Linked DNA regions of Homo sapiens: all the other regions are linked to region 1. Evidence: fine-mapped expression QTL. A gene starts in region 1. Each other region holds a variant in brackets. All regions are shown on one strand. Distances are from middle to middle.

The links. PIP is the estimated chance that this variant, and not a neighbour inherited with it, causes the effect.
Region 2: its variant is the best candidate, but not a certain one, in a credible set for the expression of GFI1 in whole blood (TOPMed, PIP 0.64).
Region 3: its variant is the best candidate, but not a certain one, in a credible set for the expression of GFI1 in sun-exposed skin (GTEx, PIP 0.57).
Region 4: its variant is the best candidate, but not a certain one, in a credible set for the expression of GFI1 in whole blood (INTERVAL, PIP 0.86).

Annotation. Positions count from the first base shown.
Region 1 is chr1:92,483,199-92,491,306 of GRCh38, reverse strand. It overlaps GFI1 (growth factor independent 1 transcriptional repressor), which reads left to right and starts at 4,382. Exons shown (of 7, transcript NM_005263.5): 1 at 4,382-4,581; 2 at 7,721-7,934. The coding sequence starts at 7,820. RefSeq lists enhancers at 4,176-4,225, 5,126-5,275, 5,198-5,798, 6,399-6,999, 7,600-8,108 and silencers at 4,346-4,555, 4,646-4,755, 5,376-5,425, 5,626-5,805, 7,586-7,715.
Region 2 is chr1:92,321,542-92,329,649 of GRCh38, reverse strand. RPAP2 (RNA polymerase II associated protein 2) reads right to left here. Exons shown (of 13, transcript NM_024813.3): 8 at 5,275-6,205. It also overlaps a transcript of GLMN not described here. Among named protein-coding and RNA genes, the nearest start is that of RPAP2, 27 kb to the right of the region's middle. The variant G/A (reference allele first, on the strand shown) is at 4,455.
Region 3 is chr1:92,988,135-92,996,242 of GRCh38, reverse strand. No RefSeq gene overlaps it. Among named protein-coding and RNA genes, the nearest start is that of DIPK1A, 31 kb to the right of the region's middle. The variant G/A (reference allele first, on the strand shown) is at 3,773.
Region 4 is chr1:92,456,670-92,464,777 of GRCh38, reverse strand. No RefSeq gene overlaps it. Among named protein-coding and RNA genes, the nearest start is that of GFI1, 26 kb to the left of the region's middle. The variant C/G (reference allele first, on the strand shown) is at 4,681.

The DNA of each region.
Region 1 (8,108 bases):
AAGCTGACAGTCTCCTCCCTCTTCAGATGTTTGAAATCCTTTATGTAAAAGCCTAATTTAAACTTTATAGTAATAGATAATATTTTTAAATGTAATGAGATTTAAATATATCAGTCCCAAAATGTTTATTAAAAGCAAATGTTTTTCTTCATGTTTGAAAAGTAAAAAATATTAATACAAAGTTGGTTCTTATACCTTAAGTCTTCTATTAACTTATCTCCATGTTTCTCCTTTACTTAATTTCCCAATTTTTGCATGAGCTGGTACAAAAAACATTACCCACTTCCCACAAATGATGGTACCATTAAATCGTATTCTGACTTATGGTGTCAGTGGAATTCTATTTTGATAGCCTGCTTCTTATAAGATTAGAAGGGGATAATTATATTACCTGTCATTCAAGTTAAGGCATCACACAGTTATCAGTTTGCATTTATTTTCTTTGAATTAATACAATTAAAATATATGTAATTCTTATTTCAGTTTGACTACACCTATCATGACACCTAATCCAAAGACAAAAATTAAATAGTTTGTTAGTATACATGAGGATAAAACCATGGCAATATGACAGGGTGTGGTTCTAACAAGTACTTCCTGTACATAAAATAAAGACCAGTTCTATATCTGGTCTTTAATCCAAGTCAAACTTTTCCTTAGTTTATTTTTGTAGTCTTTTAACTGTTAAGTGGTATGAATTCTTTTGGCTTATGCATTACATAAGCGCCATCCATAAAACTTGTTCTGGTATGTATCAAGGACCGTACAAATAATCATTGTTGGATCTAGAAATTTCACCCCTAAAAATATATCCTAAGGAAATAATTCCAAATGTAGGGAAAGCTATATTCAAAAATCTTTTCATTGTATTACTTAAAATAGTAAAAACTCGAAACAAGCTAAATAGTAAGATGAGAGTGATTGAGTAAATTATAGTAAACTAGCTGATAGAACTTTTTTATAGCAATTGAAAATGAAAGATTGTATATAAAAAGCAAGGAAGATGATTGTCATGATTTTTATTTAAATAATTTTTACTATAAAAAGTTTATATTCCATTTAAGAAAACAGGAAAATAAAGAGAATAGAAAAAAGAAAAATAATTATAATATTCGGGAAGAAAAGCAGACTACTCAGTTGTATCTGTAATACGATTATAATTTTTGTTAAATAATAGAGCAAGAATACTTGAAAGTTGTTTTACAGAGTTTTATTCTTTTCTTATCAGATATATGTAGCATAATTTGTAATATAGTCTTATTTATATTATTATTTATAATATACAAATAATATAGCATAATTTCTTATACGTTTATATTTAAAACTCAGAAACCCTCATTTGGAGCATTCTCCCATTCTTGCTGCCCAAATGAACAGGTAAAGAGTGCAAATTAAAAGATTGTTCCAGCTGGGCATTGTGGCTCATGCCTGTAATCCCAGCACTTTGGGAGGCTGAGGCAAGTGGATCACGAGGTCAAGAGTTCAATACCAGCCTAGCCAACATGGTAAAACCCCGTCTCTACTAAAAATACAAAAATTAGCTGGGCGTGGTGGTGCATGCCTGTAATCCCAGCTACTCGGCAGGCTGAGGCAGGAGAATCGCTTGAACCCGGTAGGTGGAGGTTGCAGTGAGCAGAGATCACGCCACTGCACTCCAACCTGAGCAAAAGAGCAATACTTCATCTCAAAAAAAAAAAAAAAAAAAAGGTTGCTCCACAGTCTTGCGTGGTAGGTACCAGTATTCCGACTTTACAGGTGAGAAACAGGCTGAGAGTTGAGCTAACTTATCCAAGGTCTCAAAGCTGGTACTAGCAGAACAGAGATTGACAATCACATCTTACTAGCTTTTGAATGCCTGAACTCTTTTTTCCCTTCCTGGTATCATCATGGTGAGAATCAAATGAGGCAAACATAGAAATGTATTCTGGAAATGGGGGTATTGCCCCTCCCTGGGGTTTCAGGATCACCCACTTTTCCCATGCCGTCCCACAAAGGACAGAGATCATAATTGTAAAGCTTTGTGAAAAAATAAACAAGATACTGGTAATATCCTGTTACAATTTTCTTTTTGAAAATGTCTCAGCCAGGCACAGTGGTTCACGCCTGTAATCCCAGCATTTTGGGAGGCTGAGGCAGGAGGATCATTTGAGGCCAGGAGTTTGAGACCAGCCTAGGCAACATAACGAGACTCCATCTCCACTTTTTTTTTTTTAATGTCTCAAATCTTCTGTTGTAGGGAAATTCTGATCTATGAGAGGCTGCTTGAAATAAATGGGCTACTGGCCAAGGCTTGGAAATGTTTGTGGTATGAGAAGGTCAGTTGTTATTTGGCATCGACAGATACATTATTATTGCTATTTAGAAACAATTAGTTTCTAAATATTTGAAACAATTAGTTTCAAATTATTGAAAAGGCAGTAAATGTAAAATTATTCCTTTGGAAAGACCCTATTTATAGAAAATTGTGCCTCAGGTATACATTTTGCTTACCATTAGATCTATTTCAATTCCAAAGGAATATATGGAGGGAGAGGGAGTATTTGTAGCTTCTAAAAATGTTCATGGAGGGGTGGCTTATTCTCTTTGCCCTTAGTTTAATAGAAGCAAGAGGTAGTTTGGAGTAGCAGGAAGTCAGAGATGGGTTCATTGTATCGTTATTTCTAGTCCTAGCTCTTCACTGTCCTTGGCAAGGTTCTTAACCTCTCTGGGTTCCCCTCTTCTTACCTTTCTCCTATTCTTCCCCAAGTGTGGGAGTCACACTTCAACACTATACACCCGGGAGTGTTGTGTTGTTAAAAAGTATTGTTAAATACTTTTTAAACGTGTTGAATACTTGTTAAATACTTTTTAAATGTGTATTTATTTATTTGAGTTAGTACTACATACACATGGTTCAACATGTAAAAGACATAAAGGGAAATTCAGTGCCATCTCCCTCCCACCTGCTCCTTTCTGCGTGTCCCTGTTCCAGTTCTCAGTTTTCTTTTTCAAACTCAGAAATCCCAAGAGTCTGTGAAGGGCAAATGAAAAGCAAAATGACTAGACTAAATCTGAATGAAAGGGATTTATTCTAAGGTGATACTGCTCACTGCTCAAGGTGCTTATCTGCCCCCTTCATGGGCTCCCTCAAGTTTTCTGAGACTTCAAACAGCAACACTCAACTAAACTATAAAATAGTCACAGCACCTTTTCGAGAAATTTTGACTTTGAACTTGCTAATATGCAAAGGAAATAGTCCAACCATTTCTCTAGAACTTGGTTGATAAGAAATTTTATTTTGTCCCATTTATAATTTTATTCTAAAAATTTGTTTTTTTCTGCTATCGAGTAGGAGAGAAGGGAATAAGGGAAAGATTTGTTTTTGCACTACTGTGAGATTTTTATACCTTAGGCCAGGACAAAGCACACAAGAAATAAAATATTAACAAAATGTCCTTAATTTTCCTTTCTGACCAAAATTGCTTGCCTCTGCATTTATATATAAAGAAGGGATGTGTTGAGCAAATGAAGGAGGACAGCTAGGCAGACAAGATTTGCCCAGCGCCTGGCATACAATAGGGGCACAGGTCATTGCTTAACAAAACGTATAATTTATTAATACATGCTCGAAGCACTGCTATACTAACCAAATATTCCCTGCAAAATTTTAAATTTACAGTGCAAAATAAGAATAATTTAAAAACTGTTTCTAGAAAAAGAGCTTTAAGGGCTTCCCCCCCCATAACAATTTAAGATTAACCTAGAACATGGTAGTTATTTTGCAAGAACTGGGGAGCACCACTCTCTTCTCCTTGTGCATGTCTGACATTGGAGGCCTATTGTGCACGAAGTTGTGATCAAAATCCAAGTCAATTCATTTTGAAAAGTAACATGACTACAACATCCATCCACTCCAATGAGCAAAGGGTGTAGGCTTTGAGTATACACAGCAGGCCACACACTATGGGTCATGGCATACAGTCTAGCGTTGGAGGTTGCTGCATTTGTTCATGTATCTATGAGTTAGGTTTTAAGTTTTTTCCCCCTGTTCTATTAATATAATTAATTAGTTAATTAACCCCACTCATTCATTTACTCAGTCCACAGCCTTTTGTTAAGAGCCCGCCTAGGACATAAAGATGAAGATCCAGTGCCTACCCTCATGAAACATAGAATCCGAGCGAAGAAGGCTTACTTTGCAATAGTCATCCAAGTGGTGCTTTTATGGCGCTTTACTGCTCCCGCCAACACCCAGTGCCTGGGTATGACCTCAGGCGGTGGCAGAGCCCGCGTGCGAGGTCCCGCTCTCCCTGGCTTGCCCCGGCAGGGCGGAGTCAGCCTAGCAGCCGCCGGCGCTGCCCCCGCGCGGCCTTTAATTTTGCAGCTCCGACCACCGGAAATTAGTCGAAGGCTGAGCGGACCCGGTCGAGAGCCGGCGAGCTCCGCGCAGGGAGGGTGCGCCCACCGGTCCCGCCGGGCGCCCGCGGGACGCGCCGCCAGGGCCCTCTCCGCCGGGGGCTCGGCGCTCGCCCACCTCTTCCAAATTTAACCATTACCTAAATCCGAAGGGAAATGAGCAAACCTCTCGGATTGGGTGTCAAGGTATTTTCAGCCTCGTTGGGCGTATTTATCCCCAAGTGTTTCCACAACAAGCTATTTCGGGGCCTGCGGGGCAGGTTTCGCTCTGCGGACGCCGTGGCCACTCGCCGGGCTCCAGGCCGGCGGCACCGCGGGCCGGTGATTCACGGTCCCGACCCGGGGGTGGTGCAGCCCTAGGAGGCGGCGGGGTCGGGGGTGGGGGGGGCGGGTGACCGAGGCCTGAGGGGCGGGGAGGGTCCTCGGAGCGGGGCGCCCCCCACCCCTCTCTCGCCAGTCAATCTGTGTCCTCAATCTGTGGCTTCTCTCGCTGCGGAAGTCTCCCTGGAGCCAAGAATAGTTCATTTTCTTTCAAGTCATTTCTAGTGCCTAAGTGTCCGGACCTCCAATTTCCCCCATCCCCTGCCGACCCACAGGGAGAGAACTGGGAGGACTACTAAGGGGCGCGCGGGACGGGCTGGAAAGGCCAGGCCCCCCACCGCCTGGCCACTTGCGCAAAGGAGCGCGCCCGGCCGCCCGACGGGGGTTGGGAGCAGGTCTGGGAGGGCTATGCGAGCGACTCAGTAACGCTCAGGAAGTGAAGCTTGTGGTTTTGGGGGCTGAGCTCGGAAGGAGAATTTTTTTTTTTTTTAAGTCAGAGAGATAGAGCGGTCTCTCCCGAAAGCAAGATTCCGTTTGAAAACTCTCCTAGCGCGGTGCCCGCGCCGTGACTCCGCAGGTAGGTCCGCCGAGCCTGTTCTGCGCCTCCTGCCCTGGTGGGGGCGGCCGCGGGGACTCGCAGAGCACTGGCACTGCGGGGGCGATCAGAGGGCGCGGGCGGTTTCCCACCTGCTGCGGACCGCCGTGCGGGAGCCCAGAGAGCTCCGGCAGCTGGGTTAGGGCGCGACCCGCGCAGTGTGACTGGAAATCTGGAGCTGGGGGCGCGCAGCAGGCGGTCTGGTGGTTCGGCAGGGGAGCCAAATCCACCAGGGAAGGAAACATCTGGTGGGGAGGCGGCGGCAGCTGCGCTCGGGAGGACGCCCCCTTAGCGCCCTCGGCTCCCTCCTTCCTGGGCCCGGACGGTGAGGAGAGGCCTGAGCGCGCGGAGGGGCCGCCCCACCTCCCGCGCCAGCTGCAGCGCGGGGTTGCCTTCCCACGCGCTCGGCCCAGGCCCCGGGGCCCCTATCTCCTCCAAACTCTGTCGCTCCCCACAGGAACCAGCAAAGCGGGCCGGGGTGCGAGAGAGGCGTGGGCTTACAGCCCGGGTGGGGAGGCGGCCTCCGCGTCCGCCTGGTCTCTGGTGGCGCCAGCCCAGACCCAGCTCCGGCGCTGACAGTTACCCCGCCCCCATCTGTCCCGCTCCCAGCCAACGTGGGTCCAAGCTGCAGCGGGACCCTCGGGACAACGCCACTCCGTTTTTCTTTTCTTCCGAGTTTCGTGGCTGTTTAAAGAATTGGGTTTGGGGTTTGTGGCGTCTAATTGTACGGACGAGAAGTGCAGGAAGCGACAAAGCTCTAGCCCTAGGAGCCACCCCGGAGGGAGGCGGATGGCACTCTCACCCCTAGGGGCATTCTGGCGCTTGGGTAGCGGGAAACTTCGCGGGAGCCCCGCGACACGTCCCAGGCGTCTTTTCTCCCAGGTCTATTCCCATTCCTCCGGAGAAGGGGACACAATGGGGCTGGGGATCTGGAGCAGGGGGCCTGCACCCTACAGGGACCAAGGCCTGTAGGACTCGTTTGAGCTGAGAGCGCCAACGGACAGACGTAGACTGTGTGGCCTGCATCTTGCCTAGGAAGCCGAGGGGCTCCTAGTCCGGCAGTGGAAACAGCGCGAAGCCGGAGGACTGCAGGTCCTGCCCCGGCCCAGAGTTCCCAGCACCCTCGTTTCTGAACCAGCCGAGGCCACGGAGAACTGCTGTACTGCAGCTCACGTGTGAACCCGGTCACCATCGCCTTCACCCCGGGAGGAAGGCAGATTCGTTTACTCCAGACCACCTCGACTGTGGGGTACCGCCCCCGGAGCCGGCTGGAGCCTAGCGGCAGGCGCAGCCACGCCCTCCCGCTGCGCTCAGATTTCGACCTGGTATTAGGTGAACTGATTGGGGGTTAATGAGAGCGACGCCCCGGGCAGCTAGTTCCCTCCCGGGCCCGGGCCCGACCCCCGCTCTCTGCTAATGCAGCCTGCGCGCTCTGGCGTCCTGTCTTTTTTGTCTGCTAAATTGTCGGTGCACTACCGACTCGGGACACCTAGCATTTCCCAGTCAACGTTCGTGGATCGGGCTCCACCTCCCTAGGACAAGATTTTTTGGTGAGCAGAACGGAAAGTGCTTTTTTCCCGGGACCTGATTCCCGAGGTTAGGTCTCCATGGTCTGGGATGGCTCGCCGCAGCCTCGACCGGTGCCCGCCGCAGCCGGGAGTCCAAGGGCAAAGTTTCTCCTACGTGGGGCACTAGTGAGGGGCGAGTGGGATCACCCAGATGCGAGTTTCTCCTGGGGCGGGGGTTGGTCGTCTGTTGTTCCCCTCACTTTCCTGTCCCTTTGCTCTCCCACCTCCTTTCTCTGGCCTCTGCTGTCCCCAATCCCTCTGCTGCTGTCCTCCCGCCGCCCCACAGTTTTATCTTGTGTTCTGTTCCCCCCTCCCCCCGGTCCTTTCACTCCAGTTGGTAGCTGGCTCTTGGAGGTCTTGGCTCCTTGCCCCTTCCGGGTCCTCGACCACTGGGCATCCCCGGCCCCTAAACCGATCCGCGTGTCCCCGCCCTCCCTCGCCAGCCGTAAAGCACAGCCAGGCAGGCGATGAGTAGCTGAGTTGGGGTAACCCACCCGATGGGAACTACAGCTCTCCAGGGAGTTTGATTGCCGGAGCGAGCTTCGCTAGGAAAGGGGAGGAGCTGGGGGGCGTGGGCAGGGAGGAGGAAAGGGGCCTGAGACAGGGCCCCGGGACAGGTTTTACCGCTGAGCTGTGTCAGTGGCGGCGGCGGCAACGACGGCGGGTTCGCGCCACCTGTCCAAGTGCCACCTGGTAAGCGCGGCGCAGCAGGGTCAAGCCCCTCCTCCCGTGGGCCCTCTGCGCGCCTCCCTGGCCCGCGCTCTCCCTCCGCCTGGGTGCCCAGTCCGCCGCACCGGAGAGTACTGACCCACGTCTCCACCTGGTTTTCTTTCCCTCTCAGGTCTCCTCCGGGCTGGGGCTGAGCAAGCCCTCGGAGTGACCGTGGGTGACAGCGGCTCCAGGGACTCTTGGGGCGCAGTGGGGAAAGTGCCGGACCACCATGCCGCGCTCATTTCTCGTCAAAAGCAAGAAGGCTCACAGCTACCACCAGCCGCGCTCCCCAGGACCAGACTATTCCCTCCGTTTAGAGAATGTACCGGCGCCTAGCCGAGCAGGTGCGAGGCGCGCGCGGGCCAGGCGGGGCTGCTCCCCCGGATGCCTACTGCACCTCGGCACACCATTAGTCCGGAGCTGGGAGGGGCTGCCCCAACGTCCCTTTTGCTGCTGTTTTTGTTTCCTACTGTCCTGGTTCCTCCGGGTTTGTCTCCTAGGTGCCATGGCCTCTCTGC
Region 2 (8,108 bases), 160 kb after region 1:
GTTCCCACTTGGTCAGACAGAGCGGCATGTGGAGACTCCCATCATGAACTTTTGCTCCAAGAACTACCGCAGAAACATACCAGAAAAGGCAAGGAACTGTGAGTCAGCTTGCTTTCTCAGCTGGGAGGCCTGTAGCCTGGGGCAAGTTCTCAGCCCTGCTCATCAGCTGCCTGGAAATAAACTTGGTGCTGTTGTGGGGGCACGGTGGGAGTGAGTCTGGCCTTTTAGGCTGCAGGCTGTGTGGAAGCTGGGTGAGGCCTGTGGTTGCCAGCTTTCCCCCACTTCCCTAGTGACCTGTGTGATGCAGCAGAGTCAGCCATAATCCACCTGGGAACATAACTCCATTGGCCTGGGAATCACACAATGGTACCCCCACCTGATGGTCTTTCTCTACTGGCCCTGGTAGCCGAAGACAAAGGACTTAATCTCTTGGGAGCTCTATGGCCCTACCCACTGCCTGACCCCAGAGCAAGCTTGTATCCTCCCTATCCTACTGCAGCTGATGCACTCTTGAAAGCACCACCTCCTGGCTGAAGGCCAACCAACACAAAACCAGCGCACTTAAAAAAAATACAATTAAGGACCCTCACAGAGTCCACTTCACTCCCCTGTACCTCCACTGGAGCAGGTGCTGGTATCCACAGCTGAAGACGGATCACATCACAGGACCCTTTGCAGACACTCCCTAGTACCCGCCAGAAGCCTGGTAGCTCTGCTGGGTGGCTAGATCCACAAGAACAATAACAATCACTGCAGTTTGGCTCTCAGGAAGCCCCATCCCTAGGGGAAGGAGGAGAGCACCAAATCAAGGGAGCACCCTGTGGGACAAAAGAATCTAAACAGCAGCCCTTGAGTCCCAGATCTTCCTTCTCACAGTCTACCCAAATGAGAAGGAACCAGAAAAACAATTCTAGTAATATGACAAAACAAGGATCTTTAACAACCCAAAACATCATACTAGCTCACCAGCAATGGATCCAAACCAAGACAAAATCTCAGAATTGCCAGAAAAAGGATTCAGAAGGTCAATTATTAAGCTAATCAAGGAGGCACCAGAGAAAGGTGAGGCCCAACTTAAAGAAATCAAACAAATCATACAGGATATGAATGGAAAAATCTCCAGTGAAATAGATAGCATAAATAAAAAACTATCACAACTTTGGGAAATGAAGGACATACTTAGAGAAATGCAAATGCACTGGAAAGTCTCAGCAATAAAATTGAGCAAGTAGAAGAACTTCAGAGCTTCAAGACAAGGCTTTTGAATTAACCCAGTCCAACAAAGAAAAAAGAATTTAAAAAATGAACAAAGGCTCCAAGAAGTTTGGGATTATGTCAAACAAACAAACCTAAGAATAATTGGTGTTCCTGAGAAAGAAGAGAAATCTAAAAGTTTGGAAAACATATTTGAGGGAATAATCAAGGAAAACTTCTCCAGCCTTGCTAGAGACCTACACATCCAAATACAAGAAGCTCAAAGAACACCTGGGAAACTCATCATAAAAAGATCATTGCCCCGGCACATAGTCATCAGGTTATCGAAAGTCAAGATGAAGGAAAGAATCTTAAGAGCAGTGAGGCAAAAGCATCAGATAACTTATAAAGGAAAGCCTATCAGATTAACAGCAGATTTCTCAGCAGAAACCCTATAAGCTAGAAGACATTGGAGTCCTATCTTTAGCCTCCTTAAACAAAACAACTGTCAGCCAAGAATTTTGTATCCAGCGAAACTAAGGTTCATAAATGAAGGAAAGATAGTCTTTTTCAGACAAACAAATTCTGAGAGAATTCACCACTACCAAGTCAGCACTACAAGAACTGCTAAAGGAGCGATAAATCTTGAAACAAATCCTGGAAATAATACCAAAATAGAATCTCTTTAAAGCATAAATCTCACAGGACCTATAAAACAATAAGACAATGAAAAAAAAAAAGCTGTTCAGGCAACAAATAGCACGATGAATAGAATAGTACCTCACATCTCAATACTAACATTGAATGTAAATGGCCTAAATGCTCCACTTAAAAAATACAGAATGGCAAAATTAATACGAATTCACCAACCAAGTATCTGCTTTTCAAGGGACTCACCTGACACATAAGGATTCACATAAACTTAAGGTAAAGGGTGGAAAAACATATTCCATGCAAATGGACACCAAAAGTGAGAAGTAGCTATTCTTATATCAGACAAAACAAACTTTAAAGCAACAGCAGTTTAAAAAGACAAAGAGGGACATTATACAATGATAAAAGGACTAGTCCAATAGGAAAATATGACAATCCTAAATAAATATGCATCTAAACCTGGAGCTCCCAAATTTATAAAACAGTTACTACGAGACCTAGGAAATGAGATAGAAAGCAACACAATAATAGTGGGGGACTTCAGTACTCCACTGACAGCACTAGACAGGTCATCAAGACCTGTTCCTGAATGATCACTAGGTCAACAATGAAATCTAAGTAGAAATTAAAAAATTCCACTGTGGTCTGAGAGAATATTTGATATAATTTTGATTATACCCTAGAACAAATGGATTTAACAGATATTTACAGAACATTCTACCCAACAACAGCAGGATATACATTCTATTCATCAGCACATGGAACAGTCTCCGAGATAGACCATATGATAGGCCAGCTGAACTTTGTAACAATTCCAAATGAACAGGAAGTCTCCTGGCCAGAACTCAAGGGAGGGTGTGAATCTGGTGTGCAGACTCCACAGGCTGGGAGATGTGAAAGCCCTACTTGTTCTCACAGGTGAGAGGCTGGTAGCCTGGGGCAAGTTCTCAGCCCTTCCTGCCCACTGCCTGTAAACAAACTTGGTGCTGTTTGAAGGGACATGGTGGGAGTGAAACTGGTCTTTTGGGTTGCATGGGAGCTGGGTGAGGCCTGCCACCAGCTTTCCCCCACTTCCCTGACAACCTGCATGACACAGCAGAGGCAGCCATAATCTTCCTGGAATAGCTCCACTGACCTGGGAACCACACTCCCATCCCCCACAACAGCCACAGCAAGCCCTGCCCAAGGAGTCTTGAGTTCAGACGCACATAGCCCTGCCCCCATGACGGTCCTTCCCTACCCACTCCGGTAGCTGAAGACAAAGGGCATATATTCTTGGGAGTTCTACGGCCCTACCCACAGCCTGATCCTCCCTATACTACCACAACTGATGCTCTCTTGAAAGTGCCACCTTCTGGCAGGAGGCTAACCAGCACAAAAATAGTACATTAAACAACCAAAAGCAAGGATCCTCACAGAATCCATTTCACCCCCCTGCCATCTCCACCAGAGCAGGTGCTGGTATCCATGGCTGAGAGATCTGCAGACCTGACCTAAGAGATTATCCAAGTGGTCAATAAGCAAATAAAATAGTGCTGAATTTATTCATCATCACAGTAATGTATTATAATCATAAACCAATACTACCAGAATGGCTAAAACTAACTATATCAAGTACCAGGGAGGACATGGAATCAAGGAAACTCCCATATAGTAGTAGTGGAACTGTAAACCGGTACAACCACTTTGGAAAACTGTTTGGCATTATCTAGTATAGTTGCATATATGCATATACGATAACCCACCATTCCCAGTCCTAGATACTTCAGAAATACATACGCATATTAGCAGAGAGATAAATACGAGAAAGTTCCTAAGAATATTGTTCATAATAGCCCCAAATTGGAAATAGTCTAAATGTCCATTAGCATAAATAAATGGTATATTTATATAATGGAATACTATACAGCAATAAAAGAATGAACTACAGCTATATGCAACAACACAAATGACTCAAAAGTATAATATTGCATGAAATAAACTGGACACCAAGAATATATACTGGAAAAAAAATGACAGAACTAATCTGTGCTAATATAATATTAATTTTGGAAAGAGGTGCTGATTAGGAGGGGATATATATGGGGCTTCTAGTTTACTTGTAATGACCTATTTCTTGGCTTGGGTAGTGATTACATCAGGACATTCATATGTGAATACTCAAGAAATCATATAATTACTATTTGTGTTGTACTTCAATGGAAATGTTTTAACATGTTATGTAACATTTTTGGAAAATGTTATAAATTTTTAAAAGTCAAATTTCAGGGATTATTTTTTCCTTTTTAAGGCTAAAAAGGACAAAATGATAAAATAAGTGATGTTCTATGGTAGGTTTATGCAGCTCAGTGACAGAGATCAATGTTTCTCCTAGCTTAATATAAGTTTTGGATGATGTCTAATAAGATACTTGAAATGATTTGAAGTAGGGTGCTGGGCCAAGCAACACTCTATAGAAATATATTTCTAAATTTTTTACTACATTTCTACTTCTACCCTCTTTCCAAATCTCCAATGTGCTTTTAAATTTAGAGCCACATTTACTTAGGAATATTTGAGAACAAAGTTTTGTGGTAAAAACAAGGTTATTACCCATTCCTCTTCAT[G/A]TTAAATGACTTCATTTTCCAGGGAGTATACATCAATCAAAGATGGGTAGTAGAAATACTAAAAGATGCTCTCTAAATCTCAGTGGCACATTTTCAATCTCTACATATGGGTACTATTTACTGAGTACCAATTATATGTCATGTACTGTGATAAATGCTTTATACACATTATCTTTAAAACAAATAACAATTGAGCAAGAGAAGCTATTAATAGTTCCATTTACAGATGAGCAAACAGACCAAGAAACTAATTTTTCATACAGCTAGTAAATGACACAACAGATGTTCAAATCTAGGTCTATCTGAATGTGCTTTCCATTCTCTTTGTCCATTATTTCCCAATAAGTCTCTTTTACAAACTATTTTGATCTGTAATGTTTTCAATGGACATGCTTGCTAAATATTTTCCAATGTAACTACCAAGTCTATTCCATGGCATATACTTCCATTAAACACACACACACAGACCCCATGTAAAAATCTGAAAGAATACCGAAGAAGAAAAAGCAAGCCTCTTCAGAGGCTTCATTTATTGTATGAAGAATTAGGGAAAACTTTGTCCCACCATTTTAGGCTATTTTTACATTAGAAAAAAATATTGCACACTGATGAAAATTTGCTAGGGGTAAACGTCAACTTATTTGTAAAATAGTAATGCCAACAGTGGAGATGGCACTGTAAACCAAAAGGCAGAATGACTAAAGAAACTATTTGAAAATTTAACAATTAACTCTTCAATATCCTTCCTGCTCCAAGATTTGCTGTGGTGAGTTTTCCAAATGTTAACGATCTGGAAAAACTCAATGTCTGTAAGACATACCTCTTCTGAGTCTTGTGATTTGGTGGTTTCTTCACCCAAAACATACCGTCCTCTGTAAAACTCCCTGATCCTCAGATTTAACTTTTCAGTTTCTTTTTTCAAATTCTCGTAACTTGGCAGTGGTTTAATGGCTGTACCTGAGCCCCTAAAAGGTAAAGACTCATCCAAGCTGTTCTGAGATTCCCTCCAGGCAGGGAAATGACTATCTGGATCTGAGATTATGTCATCTTCATCAAGTTCTTCTTTAACCAGAGAGGCTTCGGGTTTCAGACACACAGAAGCATAATTCTGGCCATACAAAAACCTCAATGTTTCTTCTGTCTTCCACTCAATCAAAGTCTCCTTCAAAACTTTAAGTAAGTTTCTCTTTCCAACTTCAGGACACACCTGCACTGAACTAGACACTGACCTAGACACTTGGTTTGATTTGGCAAATTTTCTCTTAAAATGCTCTGCACTTTTCTTACTTATGCCTACTAGAGTTATTTCTGACCTACTGTATTCACTTTCAGAATTTTCTGACGCTTTTAATCTTTCAGGCAAAGTGCTATTTGAAGAACTCTGAGTATTTACTTTCTGTAAAGGAAGTTCACATGTAGCATCTTTCTCCTGACTATCTAATTTGCAATCGCCTAACTGCTCAGTGACATCTACTACTGTCTGTTCTTTGTCTTTGTGTTTGGAGTTAGCTTTGTGACCAGCTTTCTTTTTCATTATGCTTTTTTGGTGCAGCTGTGGTCTAATATTTGTTGAATTTGGTCTGTTTCCTGGTAGAATGGAGGAAACAAAGTCTTGCTCATTGTCACTGCTACTATCACTGTGAGTGCTAGAAGAACTAGATTCATATTGCTTTTCAAAGTGGCTAGGATTGTCGATATCTGATGTTTTAATGGCTTTACTGCATAACTGTACTTCTTCTCCAGAATGGCCACTGTAGAATGAAAGAGAAATAAAATAACTAAATAAAAAATAGCAAATAAAACCCGAAAACAATAGAAAAGTAAAGTACCCCATAGTATTTATACATTGTAACTTTCAAGGTAGAAATTTTTATTCCCCAGACAAAACCTTATTTCTAGGTTCTGATATATAAATTTCAGAAGAAGCCTATAATTTCAGTACATCTGTTAATAATATATTTTTTGATATAGTTCTCCTTCTGTATTCTTCCTTCATCTTTTTCCCCCAATTATTTTAAAATTGTTACAGGAGTACAGCAAAACTTTTTAAAAAACTTGATAATGCTATCCTACTGCACTATTTGGATTTGCCTGTTGTTGCAAATATATATATATATATAAATATATATATAAAGTATATATATAAATATAAAGATATATAAATATATAAAAATATAAAGTATATATTTATATGTACACATATTTACATATATAATATATACTTGTACATATATAATGTATATTATATATAATATATAAAGTATATATGTAGTTTAAAAAATATATAATATGAAAAATAATATAAAAATAAATATATATTTTTAAGACAAAGTCTGTGTTGCCCAGGCTGGAGTGCAATGGTGTGAACTCAGCTCACTGCAACCTCTGCCCCCTAGGTTCAAGCGATTCTCCCACCTCGGCCTCCCAAGTAGCTGGGATTACACGTGGGCACCACCACGCCTGGCTAATTTTTGTATTTTTTTAGTAGAGATGGAGTTTTGCCATGTTGGCCAGGCTGGTCACAAATTCTTGGCCTCAAGTGATTTGCCCACCTTGGCCTCCCAAAGTGCTGGAATTACAGGGGTGAGCCACCGTGCCCGGCTGAGCTTTTTATTTTTTATTTTTTGTATTTTATTTTATTTTTATTCATTTGAGATGGAGTCTTGCTCTGTCACCCAGGCTGGAGCGCAGTGGCAAGATCTCGGTTCACTGCAACCTCTGCTTCCCAGGTTCAAGTGATTCTCCTGCCTCAGCCTCCCAAGTAGCTGGGATTACAGGTGCACACCACCATGCCCAGCTAATTTTTGTATTTTAGTAGAGATGGGGTTTCATCATGTTGGCCAGGCTGGTCTCAAACTCCCGACCTCAAGTGATCCACCTGTCTTGGCCTCCCAAACTGCTGGGATTACTGGCTGACCTTTTTAAAAAAAGTTTTTCTTTTGAAAACTTTGGCTGAGTGTGGTGACTCACATCTGTAATCCCAGCACCTTGGGAGGCCAAGGCAGGTGGGTCACCTGAGGTCAGGAGTTCAAGACCAGCCTGGCCAACATAGTGAAACCCTGTCTCTACTAAAAATACAAAAATTAGCCAGGAGTGGTGGCGCATGCCTGTAGTCCCAGTTACTCAGGAGGCTGAGGCAGGAGAACTGCTTGAACCCAGGTGGCAGAGGTTGCAGTGAGCCGAGATCGCGCCACTGCATTCTAGCCTGGGTGATAGAGTGAGACTCTGTCTTGAAAAAAAAAAAAAAAAAAGAAAGAAAATTTCATTATCGGTTTCTTAAATAAAAAAAAAAATTACAGGAATTGTGTTTAGATTTGAAAAGATAAAATGATAAAAATAAATGGGTAAACATTTTCTAATTCTGGTTGATTGTTGTACAGAAAATTCTACAGAATGAAAATCACAGGAAAGTCATAGCAGAACAAGTTAGCAAATCAACATTTTTCAATAAAAGATATTTAAATTTGAAAATCCAGAGTTACAACAATATGCTAACAATAAAAGACAAAAGTTTTCCCTGACAATGTTCTTCAATTTTCAGATTAGATTTGAATAAGATGAAGAATTACGAAAAAGGGAAGGCAACAGTAGCTTTGCCAATACAAACTTGAAACAAACAAGGATGCTCTAAAGCACAGACACTATCAAAACTTT
Region 3 (8,108 bases), 500 kb before region 1:
GCAAAGATCTCATTCCAGGCAGAGGATCTAGAAGTCACCAGGCTAAACTTGCTAATATCCTTGTACTTACCCCGACCCTTCCAGAGTGTCTGAGACTTGCACCTTCTTCCTTCCACAGCAATCCCAAAGCTTCTCCCAACCCCCATCCCTGGGACAGAAGAAATGACTAAGTAAAAAACACAAGACTTTAGCAAGCTCCTGATACAGCAGAGCCAAGAAATTATGCAAAATCTGAGTTTATCTATAATTACCTCAGAGAAGGTCATGGCTTTTGTTTGTCACAGGCTTCCCTTCCACCTGGTCTGGTTTTAATCCACAACATAATTCTCTAAGCAGCGAGCCTAACCTCCCAGAATACCACAGGGCTAAGGAAGGAGTCAAAACGCTCCACATGGATGGCAGAAGACACATTTGCTCAATTTGAGCCTGTGCACTAGGACAGGCTTAAAACTAAATCCTGGGTTTGAGCACCACTCACCAAAGTATTTTGCTTTGGCATGGTACTGGAGATTAAAGGTAGGAAAGATTACATGGTCACATCAGAAACAAAGTTTACTTTCCTGCCTATGCAGCAGTGGCTTGTTTGCCCAGTAATCTTACTTCCTTATTAAGCAATATTATGGTGGGGCAGGGAGAGGGCCGGAGACATTCTAGGAGACGGGAGCACAGCAGTAGACTGTTGAGAAGGGAGAGGCTATACCCACTCCCTCGCCTCTTATGCCTTTCCTCTAAACACATCTTCTCCATTCCTCAAGCAAAAGTAAGGTCCTCTCTCCTTTATGTGACCTCCCAGTCATGTCAACCCATTCCTCAATTTGATCATTCACTTAGTCACTCAAATGATTATTGAGTGCCCGCTATGCACTGTCTTATGATAGTTCCCTCCATGAATGCCTATGGCACTTACTCCTCATTGTGCTTGGTTATATCAATCAATCAGTCAGTATGCATTTCTCCATAACTGTGATGGTTACTGTGCTCATACTATGAGGTCTACGAAATTGCTCCTGTGAATCTACTTGGGAAGACATGATATGTCCACTTATCATTGAAAAATAAATGATAAATGCCAAACAAATGATGCAGACAGAAAGTGATATGGTTCAGGAAGAGGTTACTGTGGGCTAATGTGGCCAGTAAAGGAAGACTTTCTGGAGATGCTGTGGCGTTAGTAGTGATCAGATAAATGGAGAAGGGCATATAAAAAACAGTGTAAGAAAAGGCACAAAGACCTGCATTAAAAAGGCATGTTAGGAAACTGAGATATGACAAAACTGGCTTAGCTGCTCACCAGCTGAGAGCAACCCTAAATGCTACAATGCCAGCCTGAACACAATGTCCTGGTGAAAAGAAGCCAGATCCCCTTTTGCATTCCTTCTTACTGGGTCTCATAGCTTTTCCATCCTTCTATTCTACAGAGGGCACCCTGAGTCCCGGTTAGAAGCCAAGGTCCTGCTTTCCCACCTCATTCATGCCATCCCATTTCCCAGGAGCTGGGCCCTGATTCTTTCTGGGGACCTAAATTTTGAGTAGATTACCTTGAATAGCATCTCTGCATAGAATTTGGGGGGATGAGATACATGTTAAGACCAGTGAATCCAATAGACATATGAATAGCTTTATTCTCAAACTTCCAACCTGAGGTGATCCATCCACCTCGGCCTCTCAAAGTGTTGGGATTACAGGTGTGAGCCACCGCGCCCAGCAGCTTCACACCTTTTACTATAAAATAAGCTCCTTAATCAGAAACGATGTTTTATGGTATACCATGATGGTGAATGAAGCAGTAAGTAAATCTATAGATCATATTTCTCTCAGATGTATGGCGGGTAAGAAAGGCAGATTACCCAGAATGAATTTCTATTCCAATAAGAATAAATGACCAAATTGCTCTTCCTTAGTCAAAGAAGAGGACAATGTAATCAATCTGCCACCAGGTGGCAGTCTTTTCTTGCTGAGTATAGCAGTGAATTGAGGGCTCAAGGTCAGGCTGGCATTCAAGCAATGGCAGTAGCTAGATTAGCTTTGCTGAGGTGAGGCCCATATTAAGTCCATAAATAATTGTGCAAGTACAGAAGTGTTTGGGGAAAAAATATGAGAGTCATAAAATGGGTAATCTTGTCCACTGGTTATTCAGAACGTCTCAACCGCAAAGGCTATTTGACTGTCATTCACATGAGACACAAATATTCTTACACTCTGGGATCATTCCGAGATATTCATTCACATACATTTCCCCTAAATCTCCAGCTACCAATCCCTTGGTGTTCTGTTCTTTCTTCCAAGTTTTTGAACATGTGACCTTACACTTAGCCCCTGCCCTTGAAAGTGCATAGATCTGCATCTCAGTCCACCTTTTTCAGCAAATGGACCATGACATGCAGTGATCAAAGTTATGCTCAGTGGGAGGATTTACATTCTTTATTGTCTTTCAGACATCTAAGTTGGACAGCTGTTGTGGTTCAATTTTGACTGGTAACACCACACCATGGAGAGTCATCTGTTATCCAGGCTTGAATCCCTTCTTCCTTTCTCAACTGATCACAGGGAACTTCCCGTTAGGATACAGTTGTGGGCTGAGTGTGAAAAGCATAGGCATACTGTGAGTGAGGGTCACCTGCTTAACTAATTAGAGTCTTCAGAAGCTGCTTAAACCTGAGCTTATGTATGCCAATTCTGCTTAATGATGAACTGCTCTGGGCTTTCCAAATTTATGGTTTGGTGTCTCAGACAAGTCCCAGTTAAAATGGGCAACTCACTTCATATGAGGTATCCCGTGGTCAGGTAGAGGTGGCTGGATGCCTTGGTAAGATATGTGGATTCCAGAATTGGTCAATACACTCCATGAAGTTTCAGGGCCCAGCTACTTCAGTGTGGTTTTTAGGAGTCCAGTGGTGAGAGACTTGCTGGAATAACCTCTCCAAAGTAAAAGACAAGTTGTGGCGTCTTCCACCTTAACCCAAAGAAGAAAGCACAGAGCCTGGAAGTCTCTTTAGATTCTGATGCAACATATCCCATACTTAGGAATATTGCACCTGCCCATATACTGGGTGACATGGAAGGCTGACAGCTTTGAGGGGGCTTGAAGAAACAAAGGGCACTCCATCAGGTCCAGACTGTGGTATAAGCAGACCCCTACTCAGGTCACATGATCCAGCAGGCCCTATGGTGTTGGAGGTATCAGTGGTGGCAAAAGATGCAGTGAGGGGCTTATGGAGAACTCCAGTGAGAGAATCACAAGGCTGACCCCTGGGATTCTGGAGAAAGGTCATGCCACCCACAGCAGAAAATTACATACCCTTTGAAAAACAGTTCTTGTCAAGTTGTTGTCTTGTCGAGTTGCAGAAGGCAAGTTACTCTGGTAGAGGCAGAATGTTTGACTATTGAACATCAAATGACCCATGCATTCAGAACTTATTCCCATTGTAATCAGGGTTCTGTCCATAACATCAAGTTAAAAAGTTAGATGGGCCCAGTAGCAATCCATCGGTTGATGAAAATGGTATATCCAGATATATCCAGAATCAAGTCCAAGTAGGACCGGAAGGTACAAGCCAGCTCTATGGGCAAATAGCTCAGGCCCTCGTGTCACCTATTACAGTTGCACTAGTTCCTCTCCCATGGCTTATACCAATGGCCTTGTGAAAGGTCTCTTATGATGAGTTAAAGTGGAAGGAAAAGCCCAAGATTCGTTTATAGATAGGTCGTCTCAAGTGCATACTAAAAATGAGTGGTGACTGCATTATCGCCACATTCAGAGGTGTTCCTTAAT[G/A]ACAGTGGAAAGGAAAAATCTTCCCCAAGGACAGAGCTGGGAATCTGCTTTGGTGGAAGGAAAAATGGCCTACATATAAATTCCTGGGTTGTGGCCAATGGCTTGGCTGTCTGGTTAAAGGCCTGGAATGCAGAGGACTGGAAGACCAGAGACAAAGGAAATCTGGGTAGAGGAAGTGGATGGACATGTGAGAGTAGGCACAAAGTATGAAGACTGTTGTATCACATGTCTACCAGAAAGTATCCACCAGACATTTAACAACCAAGCAGACACAATGGCTCTGCCAATTGATATTAGTCAGACTGCATCACTGGCAATCCCAGAGCTGAGATAATGGGCACATGAGTGGGGTGACCATATGGCAGAGGTGGAGACCACATATGAGCCCAACAGCATGGACTCAGAGCAAAGCCAATCTAGTTATCTCTGAATGTTCAACTTGTCGGCAACAGAGACCATCACTAAGTCTTCAACATATTATTTCTCAAGGAAAACATCCTGGATATTAGAACTCTCCTATTCTGAAAGGGTTAGTGGTTCACTTTCACAAGGATAATGCCTATTCCAGGTATGGGTTTGCCTTTCCTACCCACAGAGCCTCAGCCAGGACTGCTATCTAGGGGCTTATAGAATGCTTGATCCACAGGCATGGAATCCCACACAGCATAACATCTGGCCAAGTGACCTGCTTTGAAGCAGAGGTACAGGAATGGACCCATGACCATGGGTTCCATTGGTCATATTACATGCCACACCATCCAGATGCAGCCAGGCTCACAGAATGCCAAAATGGCCTTCTAAAGGGGCAACTGAAATACTGACTTTATGGGTGGGTCAGTCTGTCTATATTCATTTATTTATTTGTCAGAGTAACATGATAAAAATGCTAGCGTGATTATTTCTTTTTTAAAATTTATTTTTCTTTTTATAGAGATGAAGTCTCACTATGTTTCCCAGGCTGGTCTTGAACTCCTGGGCTCAAGTGATCTTCCACTTTGGCACCACACTCAGCCTCTTTTTATTTTTATTTATTTATTTGTAGAGATGGGATTTCACTATGTTGCCCAGGCTGGTTTTAAACTCCTGGACTCAATCTATCCTCTTGCCTTGGCCTCCCAAAGAAAAGTGCTGGGATTATAGGTGTGAGCCACTAAGCCTGGCAACAGCGATTATTTCCATACGGTGAATTTAATTTTCTTCTTTTTGCCTACCTATATTTTCTAAAGTTTCTGAATGCATTAGTGTTAAATTAACAGGGTAAAAATAAAGAAAACTCCTCTTTTCATTACTCTATAAAATAGCTCTCCAATTTCTGAGCCCTGGCATTCTTACCTTTCCTCTCTTGAACTCTCTAAACTCCTTCTGTCTCTCTTATCACCATAAAAAACATCCGGTACTTCTCAGGAAACACAGAACCACTTCCCTGAAACCATTTACCACATAAATCTGCATTGCTGGGGCATTGGTCCCAGATGGTCCCTGGACTCTCTCAACCTGTGAGTACTGTTTTGTCAACAGTGTTCTGAGTGCTTTGTACACAATATGGCAAAGAAATTTACCCTGGTGCCTTCTGAGTTCTAGAAACCTGCTACTATTTATCTCAAATCCTAGAAACTCCTATTTCATTGTGAATCTGTATTATTTATTGCTGCATTACAAATTATCCCAAAATTAGCAGCTTAAAGCAACATTTATTTCACACAGTTTCCAAAGGTCAGAATCCAGGAATACATTAGCAAGGTGCATCTGCTTCCAGGATGGCTCAGTCACATGGCAGCTGACATTACCTGTGATCCTCCTGAGCCATGAAGGCTATCACTTACTCCTTCTCTTAAGCACACGTGGATAAACCCTGGGGCATGATTAGATCAGTGAGGTTTTTTTCTTTTTTAATAGAGACAGAGTTTTGCTATGTTGCCCAGGCTGCTCTTAAACTCCTAGCCTGAGCTATCCTCCCACCTTTCCTTCCCAAAGTGTTGGGATTACAGGTGTGAGCCACCATGCCCAGTTATCCTTGAGTTTTGTTTTGCTTCTGAGATAGGGTCTCATTCTGTCACCCAGCCTGGAGTGAGTGCAGTGGCAAGAACACAGCTCACTATAACCTCAAAGGATCCTCGCACCTCAGACTTCTGAGTAGCTGGGACTACAGGTGCACACCACCTCACTCTGTTAATTTTTAAATTTTTTGTAGAGACGGGGTCTCACCATGTTACCCAGGCTGGTCTCCAGCTCCTGAACTCAAGTGATCCTGCTGCCTCACTCTCCCAAACTGTTGGGATTACAGGCGTGAGTCACCGCATCTTGTGAGCTTTTTTTTTTTTAATATTTTCTTCCCTTAGATTGCCAGTCATGCTTTTACTGCTAAAAATGCTAGCAGTGATTATTTCTTTTTAAAAAATGTGTTGAGCTCTAAGCTCACAAAGTACAAAATGCTATAATTCGAATGTTTTGTCCTCTCCAAAATTCATATTGAAACTTAATCCCCAATGCAACAATATTAGGAGGCGTGGCCTATAAAAGGTGATTGAGTCATGACAGCTTCACCCTCATGAATAAGATTGGGTGCCCTTATAAAGGGCTTGATGGAGAAAGTTTGCCTCTTTTTGCCCCTTCTATCCCTTCCTCTATGTGAGGACACAGTGTTTCTCCTCTCCAGAGGATGCCTCAACAAATCACTGTCTTGGGAGGGAAGACCGGGCCCTCATCAGACACCGAACCTGCTGGGATCTTGGACTTCCTAGTCTCCAGACTGTGAGAAATAAACTTCTGTTGTTTATAAGTTACCTAGTCTCAGGTGTTTTGTTTTAGCAACACTAATGGATTAAGACATAAAGTAAGGGCATAGAATATAAAAAGGATAGGTGTTTCACTCAGAAAGAACTATCCATTTTTTTCCAATTTTGCTCAAATGAACAAATGAAAACCAGGTCAGGTACAGTGGCTCATGCCAGAAATCCTAGCACTCTGAGGCCAAGACAGGAGGATCACTTGAGCCCAGGAGTTCAAAACCACAGTGAGCAATAATCGTGTCACTGCACTCCAGCCTAGGCAACATAGCAAGGCCCTGTCTCTAGCAGATTTGGAATCTGTAGGCCTAACAAATATGAAAAGAAAGATCTGGGCTCAGTGATCAAAAATAGTTTGATGAAGACATGATTATGAACTTAATCCTATTTCATTTCCAGGCACGATGGGATTTGGGAACTAGATTTACTCTTCTGCCAGCAACAACAAAAACAAGCAAAATTCTTTTGAAACTTAAGAAACTAATTTAAGAACAAGGCACAGTGGTGTGCTCCTATAGTCCTAGCTACTCAGGAGGCTGAGGCAGGAGGATTGCTTGAGCCCAGTTCGAGGCCAGCCTGGGCAACATAGTGAGTCTCTGTCTCTAAAAAAAAAAAAAAAAAAAAATTAAGAAACTGGAAGAAGAAGAGCAAATTCAACTAAGGGTGAGCAGAAGAAAAGAAATAATAAATATGAGATACAAATAAATAAAAAAGAAAAGGCAAAAACAGTAGGAAAAAATTAATGAAACCAAAAGCTGGTTCTTTGAGAAGATAATAAAAGTGATAAATCTCTAGCCAGACTTGTCAGGAAAAAAGAAAGAATATATGAATTATCAATATCAAGAATGTGAGTGGTAACATCACTAAAGTTTCTATAGTTATTAAAATAATAATATGGAAATATTATAAGAAACTTTTTACATATCAATTTAACAGCATAGATGAAATGGATAAATTTTTTGAGTGACAGAAACTATTAAAATTCACTCAAGAAGAAATAAGTAACCTGAATAGCCTTATATCTATTAAAGAATTGAATTTGTTTTAAAAAATCTTCCCACAAAGAAAAGTCCAAGTTGCTTAACTGGTAAATTCTAAATAATGTAGAAGGAAGAAACAATATCAATTCTATACAAATTTTACCAGAAAATTGAAAAGTAGAGAATTTTCCCCCAAATAATTCTATAAGGCCAGTATTATCCTGATACCAAAAACCAGACAAAGACATTATAAGAAAACTATAGACAAATATCCCTCATAAATATGGTTGCAAAAATTCTAAAAATATTTTTAGCAAATTAAATGCAATAATATATAAAAAGGACAGTACATCATAGCCAAATACAGTTTAACCCAGGAATGCAAAATTGGTTTAACATTTGAAAATCAATGTAATTTATCACATTAACAAGCTGAAAAAGAAAAAGCATATGATCATCTCAATAGATGCAGGAAAATCATTCAACAAAATCCAGCATCCATTGATGATAAATCTTCTCTACAGAGAAAGATTAGAAGGGAACTTCCTTAACTTGACAATGGCCTTTATG
Region 4 (8,108 bases), 27 kb after region 1:
AATGTGGCCATGACATTTCCCCCTTATTTCCTCTCCTTCTGATTCTCATGCTGTGAAAAGCCATGACCCCTAGGGCTCCTCCCCTAAGATGTTGGAGTACCATCTGAGAGGGACAGAGACTATATACATCCTGGGCCCAGATTAGCCTGGAAGAGGGCTTCACAAAAGACTGGCTTGTGTCAGAGTCATTCTGTTCACAAATTGCCTTCCTTTCTGCATTTTCTGATGATTTGTGATTTATTTACTTGTTTTCTTGTTTATTATCTGACTTCCCATGAGTCAGAGATCATGTCTATCTTATTTACTACTGCATCTCTAGGGCCTATAAAGCAAGTATTTTTTTAAATGAATAAATATTACTTAAATGTTGTTAAATTTAGCCTAAGTTCAGTGCAATAGGATTTTGGCTGGGGAGGTGGGAGTACATTTAAATTCATACATATATTTATGTACTCAGTAATTTTTTTTTCTTTTTTTTTTTTTGAGACAGAGTCTCGCTCTGTCGCGCAGGCTAGAGTGCAGTGGCGCCATCTTGGCTCACTGCAACCTCCGCCTCCAAGGTTCAAGCAATTCTCCTGCCTCAGCCTCCTGAGTAGCTGGGATTACAGGCGCCCGCCACCATGCCTGGCTGATTTTTGTATTTTTAGTAGAGGTTTCACCATGTTGGCCAGACTGGTCTCGAACCCCTGACCTCAGGTGATACGCCCACCTCGGCCTCCCAAAGTGCTGGGATTACAGGTGTGAGCCACTGCGCCTGGCTAGTAATGTTTTTCTCTTACAAGGTAGACACTAGAAATTTCAGAATAATATGAGAAACAGGCCAATAATAGACTATATTATCCTAAGCTTGGGGCCCAGAAAGGTTAAAACTAAGAATGCAATCGCTGTTTCTCCAAGCCAGGAAGCAACTGCCATCAGCGTTCAGTTGGGTTGCACTTTCTCCATTTATCTTAGAGATATGCCATACTGTACTTACATTAGATGATGATCAGTTTCAGAGTATGAACAGCCATTTCTAACTGGAGAGTGTAGCTGTCTCTTTTTAGTCCAGCGGAGTCTAAGAGTTACTCCATATGTGTCTATCAAATAAAGAAAATCTGGATTCCTGAAACTTGTCCCTGAAAAAAAGGGCATAACTGATCTTTCCTTAATTTATGCTTTCAGTTTCACTGTGATCATCGTCCCTTTGAAAAGTCTGGTTTCCTTTGCTCACAACCTCACCTTAAATATTAAACCCAATTTGTAAGGTAAATCTGCAGGAAAAATATATATACCATATCATCTATGTCAAGAGTCTGGTGCAGAGTGGGCACTCAATAAATAACCCGCTGTCATGACTATTTTTATCATTATTGATATCTTCTAATATGAATAACTACCACCACTTATTAAGACTTTGCTCTATGTTAAGAAATGAACTAAATGCTCTGCATACATTTTCTCATTTAATCCTAGCAATATTCCTCTGAAACAAAGTATCTATCATTATTATCACCATTTTATAGGCGAGTAAACTAAGGCACAGAAAAGTTAACCATCTTTCCAAGGTCACATAGTGAATATGTGACACAGCTGGTATTAAACCCCAGGCAGTCTGGTTTTCAAGGCTGATCTCAGATTATTTGTACTATTTCTTTGGGGTCAGCTCACGTCACTGGTTGATTTTATTTCTCAATTAGATCATGACAAAATTTTATTCTGGAAACCCTGATAATCTTATTATTCTTATCCTTATTAAATCACATACATTCAATTAAGTCTATCCTGGTGTATTTTTTTCTCTTAAAAATTCACAAGGATATTTAAGAAATTAGCCACTCATTGCTGACGGCAGCAATTTACAGACCACCTCTCCCAAGCCCAGGACTATTCCATTGCCTGGTGCCCTTTGCTGCCATAGCCCAAGTTGTTTCCATCTGCCTGATGGAGACCAGGCTTCTCTATGTCCCTGAATAAGTACAATTGTATGAGGCACCTGATCCAGCAACTTACTAGTGTCCAGGGGCAAAGCTGTATTCTTTGTTAACTAACTTATTGATTCTAAAATCAGAAGTGCAAATATGTTTTCTGGCAGCATTTGGAAAGTGGGATTACACATTTCATTTTTGATTGCAGATAGAACTCCCTGCAGATATCGATGATTCTTTTTTATTGTAACTTGACCACCTATTTCAAATCCACTTAGAAATTTTTATTATGTTGCCCGAGCACAGTGGCTCATGCCTGTAATCCCAGCACTTTGGGAGGCTGAGGCGAACAGATCACTTGAAGTTAGGAGTTCGAGACCAGCCTGGCCAACATGGTGAAACCCCGTCTCTACTAAAAATACAAAGCCAGGCATGGTGGCACATGCCTGTAATCCCAGCTACTTGGGAGGCTGAGGCAGGAGAATTGTTTGAACCTGGGAGGTTGAGTTTGCAGTGAGCTGAGACTGTGCCATTGCACTCCAGCCTGGGTGACAGAGCGAGACTCCGTCTCAAAAAAAAAAAAAAAAAAAAAGAATTTTATCAATACAGTTGATTCTACCTGTATACTCCTGCCCTGGCCCATTCCCCAGCCTCACTTTTTATTACTTCTTTTATTTCTGTACTTTTTTTTTTTTCAATAAGAGTGGAAAGACCTGAAATGTTTTGTGACTTAAAAAAAATAGTTCTAGTTCTCTCCACAAATTTTGAAATAATAAGCATGATTGCCATGGCAGACAACCCTACCCACCTAAACCTTTGCTTCCCGTACACTTAAATATAGGCTACAATTATTACTTCTCTATTTAGAGATTATTGTGGTTTCAGTTTTCATTGTGTCCTTGTGGGGTTTGCCTCTTTGGGTTGCCATTATAAATGTCTCTTTTATTCCCCCATGTGGTCACTTTCTTAAATACCTTGTTTAGCACATCTTAAATGGAGTGTGGTTTGACTGTGGTATCTGCCAACCTTAGGGATATTCTACTACTTTTGTTCCCTTCCAATTATAGAAAACATGTGATAATAATTTCGCTTTTGTGAACTGTCGGGGAAGGGAAGAGATCATACATATCTTAAACACCTATTATGTGTCAAGCGTTTTGCCAATATTTTCCCAATTTAACATTCCTGTTAGATGATTGTCATTACATCTGTATTATGCATGAGAAAACTGAAACTCAGAGAGGTACTAAATGGTGAAGACAAGATTTGAATCAGGTCTTCTGGGCATGTGATCGTGAAAAGGCATGAGATGTGTGGACAAGTTCAGCCTCATGAGGATCAGGCAGTCTCTTTCCTAGATATCTGGTTCTTCTGCTTTTCTCCCTACCCCTAATCTACTCCTAACTGAAATAAGGGGTTTCAAGTGGAAATGCTAATACTTATCCTATTCACTTCACAGGAGGTGTTATGGGATTTGGTGAGGCAATACTTTAAATTTCAGAGAACAGATACTATAGTCGTCAAAGGCATTATTTATGCTATTTTCTGATAGGCAGTGAGTTGACATTTTCTTCTGTATTACTATTGTTTGTGGAGGCTGGCAAAGCTGAACACCTCTAATTCAGACATCATCCCAAACCTCAGGCCACCCTGTTCTCTCATTTTCATTTACCAAATCTGCTTACACAGACTCCAACTTGTGTATTTTCCCCTCTCCTACTCCTTTAAGTCCTCTCACCAACAGGAGACAAAGACAGCACTCTGGGGATGAAGGCCCAGAAACTAGACTCCTAGCACACAAACTTAATAATAAGCTCATGAAACTTTTAATAGTATTTAAAATAGTATTAAAATTTGTATCAATAAATATAAAAATAGATTAATTCATCAGAGAGTTCCAAGGTGTACCCAGCAAGGAAATAACTTTTAAATATAGAGTGATAGGGTCAAGCACAGTGACTCATGCTTGTTATCACAGCACTGTGGGAGGCTGAGGCAGGAGGATTGCTTGAGCCTAGGAGTTGGAGGTTATAGTGAGCTATGATTGCACCACTGCACTCCAGCCTGGGCAACAGAGGGAGACCCTGTCTATAAGTCAAGAAATAAATACAGAATGATGGTTACAACTTTGGGAGCATTTCACAAATGGAAAAACTTGTGTATAATAAGTGGCTCTAGGGCCGGGCACAGTAATTCCAGCACTTTGGGGGGCCAAGGTGGGTGGATCACTTGAGGTCAGGAGTTTGAGACCAGCCTGGCCAACACTGCGAAACCCCATCTCTACTAAAAATACAAAAAAAAAAAAATTAGGTGGGCGTGGTGGCACATACTTGTAAGCCCAGCTACTTGGGACTGAGGCAGGAGGATCACTCAAACCCAGGAGGTGGAGGTTGCAGTGAGCTGAGATGGTGCCACTGTACTCTAGCCTGGGTGACAGCAAGACTCCATCTCAACAACAACAACAAAAAAAAGTTGGGGGGGGCACCTAACAATGTCCATTCCTGACTTATTTATTTGGTCAAAGGATGTGAATATTTTTAAATGATTATTCTTCTCCAGCTTCTCCCTTTGCCTCTGCTATTAGGTTGGTTTCCTTCAACAGCCTGACGATTGGTCATGGCAAAGAGAAACTGTGCGTGTTAGCATTCTGAGAGTGGTTTGGAGATTTACTCCCACTAAGTTGATAAACTTCCTCCTTCTTAACGGTTTTCTAGACTCTAATCCTAATCATTGCCTTCTTTCCAAATTCTCCACGAGTGTTGCTCAGGAAGCA[C/G]AAGTAGCTGTAAACCACAGAGGCTGGTTCTTACCAACTGTTGGATTCAACCTGTAGCAAACTGGACAGAGCACAGCCTGTCCTTTCAAGAGCCCAGAGCAACTCCTAAGTGAAGAAAGAGAACTCAACTTGTATTGTGTAAATTTTACCCAGAACAGTCTCAGGAAGTATCACAGCTTCCTGATTGCAAACCTAGATAAAGTCTAAGGCCACAGCTGCTAAGGACAAAAGCCACCAACCCCCCAAAATGAAGAAAATGACATCCAAAGTCTGTATTTGAGAGAAAGTCCTATTAGATACGTGAGGGTGTAAAAGACAATTCAGATGAAGGAACTGGTTTTGTGTCTCAAGCAAACAAAGGTCACCTTTGGAAATAATAGAGAACAAGGGAGATCTGAGAGTTCTGACTGCCAGTATCATGAAGTCGGTTTCTGCACGATTATTTCATTATAGATTAAACCTGAATCTGATTAAACCTATCATGGATATGGAGTGAGCTGATGGGAGCCCATGTGTTGGAACTCTGAAGTGGAAAGACTTACCCCATAAAATCTTTTCTCTGCTTACCTTGCTTTCAGTGCCTCCTCTAAAATATGAAAGCCACTGTGTTCCATCAATATTAAGAAAAACATCTCTGTGGCTTAAAAAGTAGATCAGGCCTGGGTGCAGTGGCTCATGCCTGTAATCCCAGCACTTTGGGAGGCCGAGGCAGGCGGATCACCTGAGGTCAGGAGTTCAAGACCAGCCTGGCCAACATGGTGAAACCCCGTCTCTACAAAAATACAAAAAAAAAAAAATTAGCCGGGAATGATGGCAGGTGCCTGTAATCACAGCTACTGGGAGGGTGAGGTGGGAGAATCGCTTGAACCTGGGAGGCGGAGGTTGCAGTGAGCCAAGATCATACCATTGCACTCCAGCCTGGGCAACAGAGTGAGACTTCGTCTCAAAAATAAATAAATAAATAAATAAATAAAAAGAAAAGTAGATCAAGATTGATTGCAAAGAGCAGAATTCAAATTCCTTTGCTGACTAGTTGCATGCCTTTGGACAATTTAATCCTAGTTGCTTTATCTGTTGGGAATACATGGGAAGAATAATTCCTACTTGTAGGGTTATTGTGAGGATTGCAGATACCTGCAAGATGCCAGGCCCAGAGGAAACAACCAACATATAATAGTTATTATCCTATTATTCTTAATCAATGACTTTGAAATGTAACAGGGCTGGCCAGGAGCAGTGCCTCACACCTGTAATCCTAGCATTTTGGGAGGCCAAGGCGGGTGGATCACCTGAGGTCAGGAGTTCGAGACCAGCCTGGCCAACATGGTGAAACCCTGTCTTCTACTAAAAATACAAGAATTAGCTGGGCGTAGTGGCGCATGCCTGTAATCCCAGCTACTCGGGAGGCTGAGGAAGGAGAATCGCTTGAACCCAGGAGGTGGAGGTTGCAGTGAGGCGAGATGGAGCCACTGCACCTCAACCTGGGTGACACAGTGAAACTCTGTCTCAAAAAAAAGAAAAAAGAAAAAGAAGTGTAACAGGGCTGGAAACTCCCATTTCTGGCAGTATCATAGATTAGATATCCTGAATAACTCTGTAGATTAAAACAACCAAAATTCTGGGTAAACTATTCTTACATAATTATAAATAAATCACTGATCTGTCACCAAAATAAGGAATTTGTTGATTTCAGAAACAGTAGTGAAAGTAGGAAATCTGGTCGGGGAAGCAGGGTTTTTTCAAATTCTGGAGAGTCCTTCCTTCTTTGAGGCTGCATGAAGCTGTATGAAGAAGGCACAGAATCAGGAGTTAAAGCTTAGGGCTGACTAAGGTGGAGAATCTTAGGAAACTCACCCCTCTATACCCTCAGTGTAAGGATGAATAGGAAGTCACTCTGCACAGAAGGAGATAATGAAGAAATGCCTATTTCCACCTTGGCGCTGGTGGAGGGGTTGGAAATCTTCCCTAACAGTTCGTAAAGCAAGTTGGCCTTCGTGTGTGTTTGTGAGAATTCAGTCTAAAATTTTAAACTAACTATAGTTCAACTATAGTCCCAGATTGGTAGCACCTGGGGCAATTGATAGAAACAAAAACAAATTTCTCTGGAAGGATTTAACTGTAATCCAGACCTTAAAGAATTCCTACAGGTTAAGTTCCAAGGAGAACAGGCAGCTTATATTTTTTTTTTTAAAAAATCACAAGACGTATAATGATGTAAGCAAGACACCATAAATGAGAATCAATATAAACAAATTTCAGCAAATATAGACTCACAAATATTTCAGATGTTGGAAAACAGATATGAAATAATCTATTATGTTTAAAGAGAAAAAATAAGTGCTTAAAAATATGAGCAGAGAATAATGACAATAAAGAATGGCCACAGAGGGCCAGGCATGGTGGCTCACACCTGTAATCCCAGCACTTTGGGAGGCCGAGGTGGGCAGATCACCTGAGGTCAGGAGTTCAAGACCAGGCTGGCCAACATGGTGAAACCCTGTCTCCACTAATAATACAAAAAAAATTAACCAGGTGTGGTGGTAGGCACCTGTAATCCCAGCTACTCAGGAGGCTGAGGCAGGAGAATTGCTTGAACCTAGGAGGCGGAGGTTGCAGTGAGCCAAGATTGTCCTATTGCACTCCAGCCTGGGTGACAAGACCAAGACTCCATCTCGGGGAAAAAAAAAAAAAGACCAAGCAGATTTGAAAGTAAATATAACTTCTAGAAATAAAACCAGTACAGATGGGACAAATAGAAAATAATTGGAGAGGTCAGGCACGGTGGCTCACACCTGTAATCCTAGCACTTTGGGAGGCCGAGGAGGGCGTATCACTTGAGGCCAGGAGTTTGAGACCAGCCTGGCCAACATGGAGAAATCCCATCTCTACTAAAAATACAAAAATTAGCCAGGCATGGTGGTGCACTCCTGTAATCCCAGCTACTCAGGAGGCTGAGGCAGGAGAATCACTTGAACCCGGGAGCTGGAGGTTGCACTGAGCCGAGATCGTGCCACTGCACTCCAGCCTGCGTGTCACAGCAACACTCTGTCTCAAAAAAAAAAAAAAGAAAGAAAGAAAGAAAAGAAAAAGAAAAGAAATGGTGAAATGTTACAACTCAAACCAAACCATATCAATAATCCCCATTATATATAAATGCAAATGACGTAACCGGTGCTGTCCAATACAGTAGCCACTAGCCACATTTGGCTATTGAACACTTGAAATGTGGCTGGTGTGACTGATTTTAAAATTGTGTTTAATTTTAATTAATTTAAATTTAAATAGGAATATATGGCTAGTTGCTACACATATTGTATTGGACATGACAATTCCAAACACCCCAATTCAAAGTCAGAGATTATCTGAGTAGATAAAAAAGCAAGATCTAATTATATGTTGGCTTCAAAAAAATTCGTTTTAAAAATAGA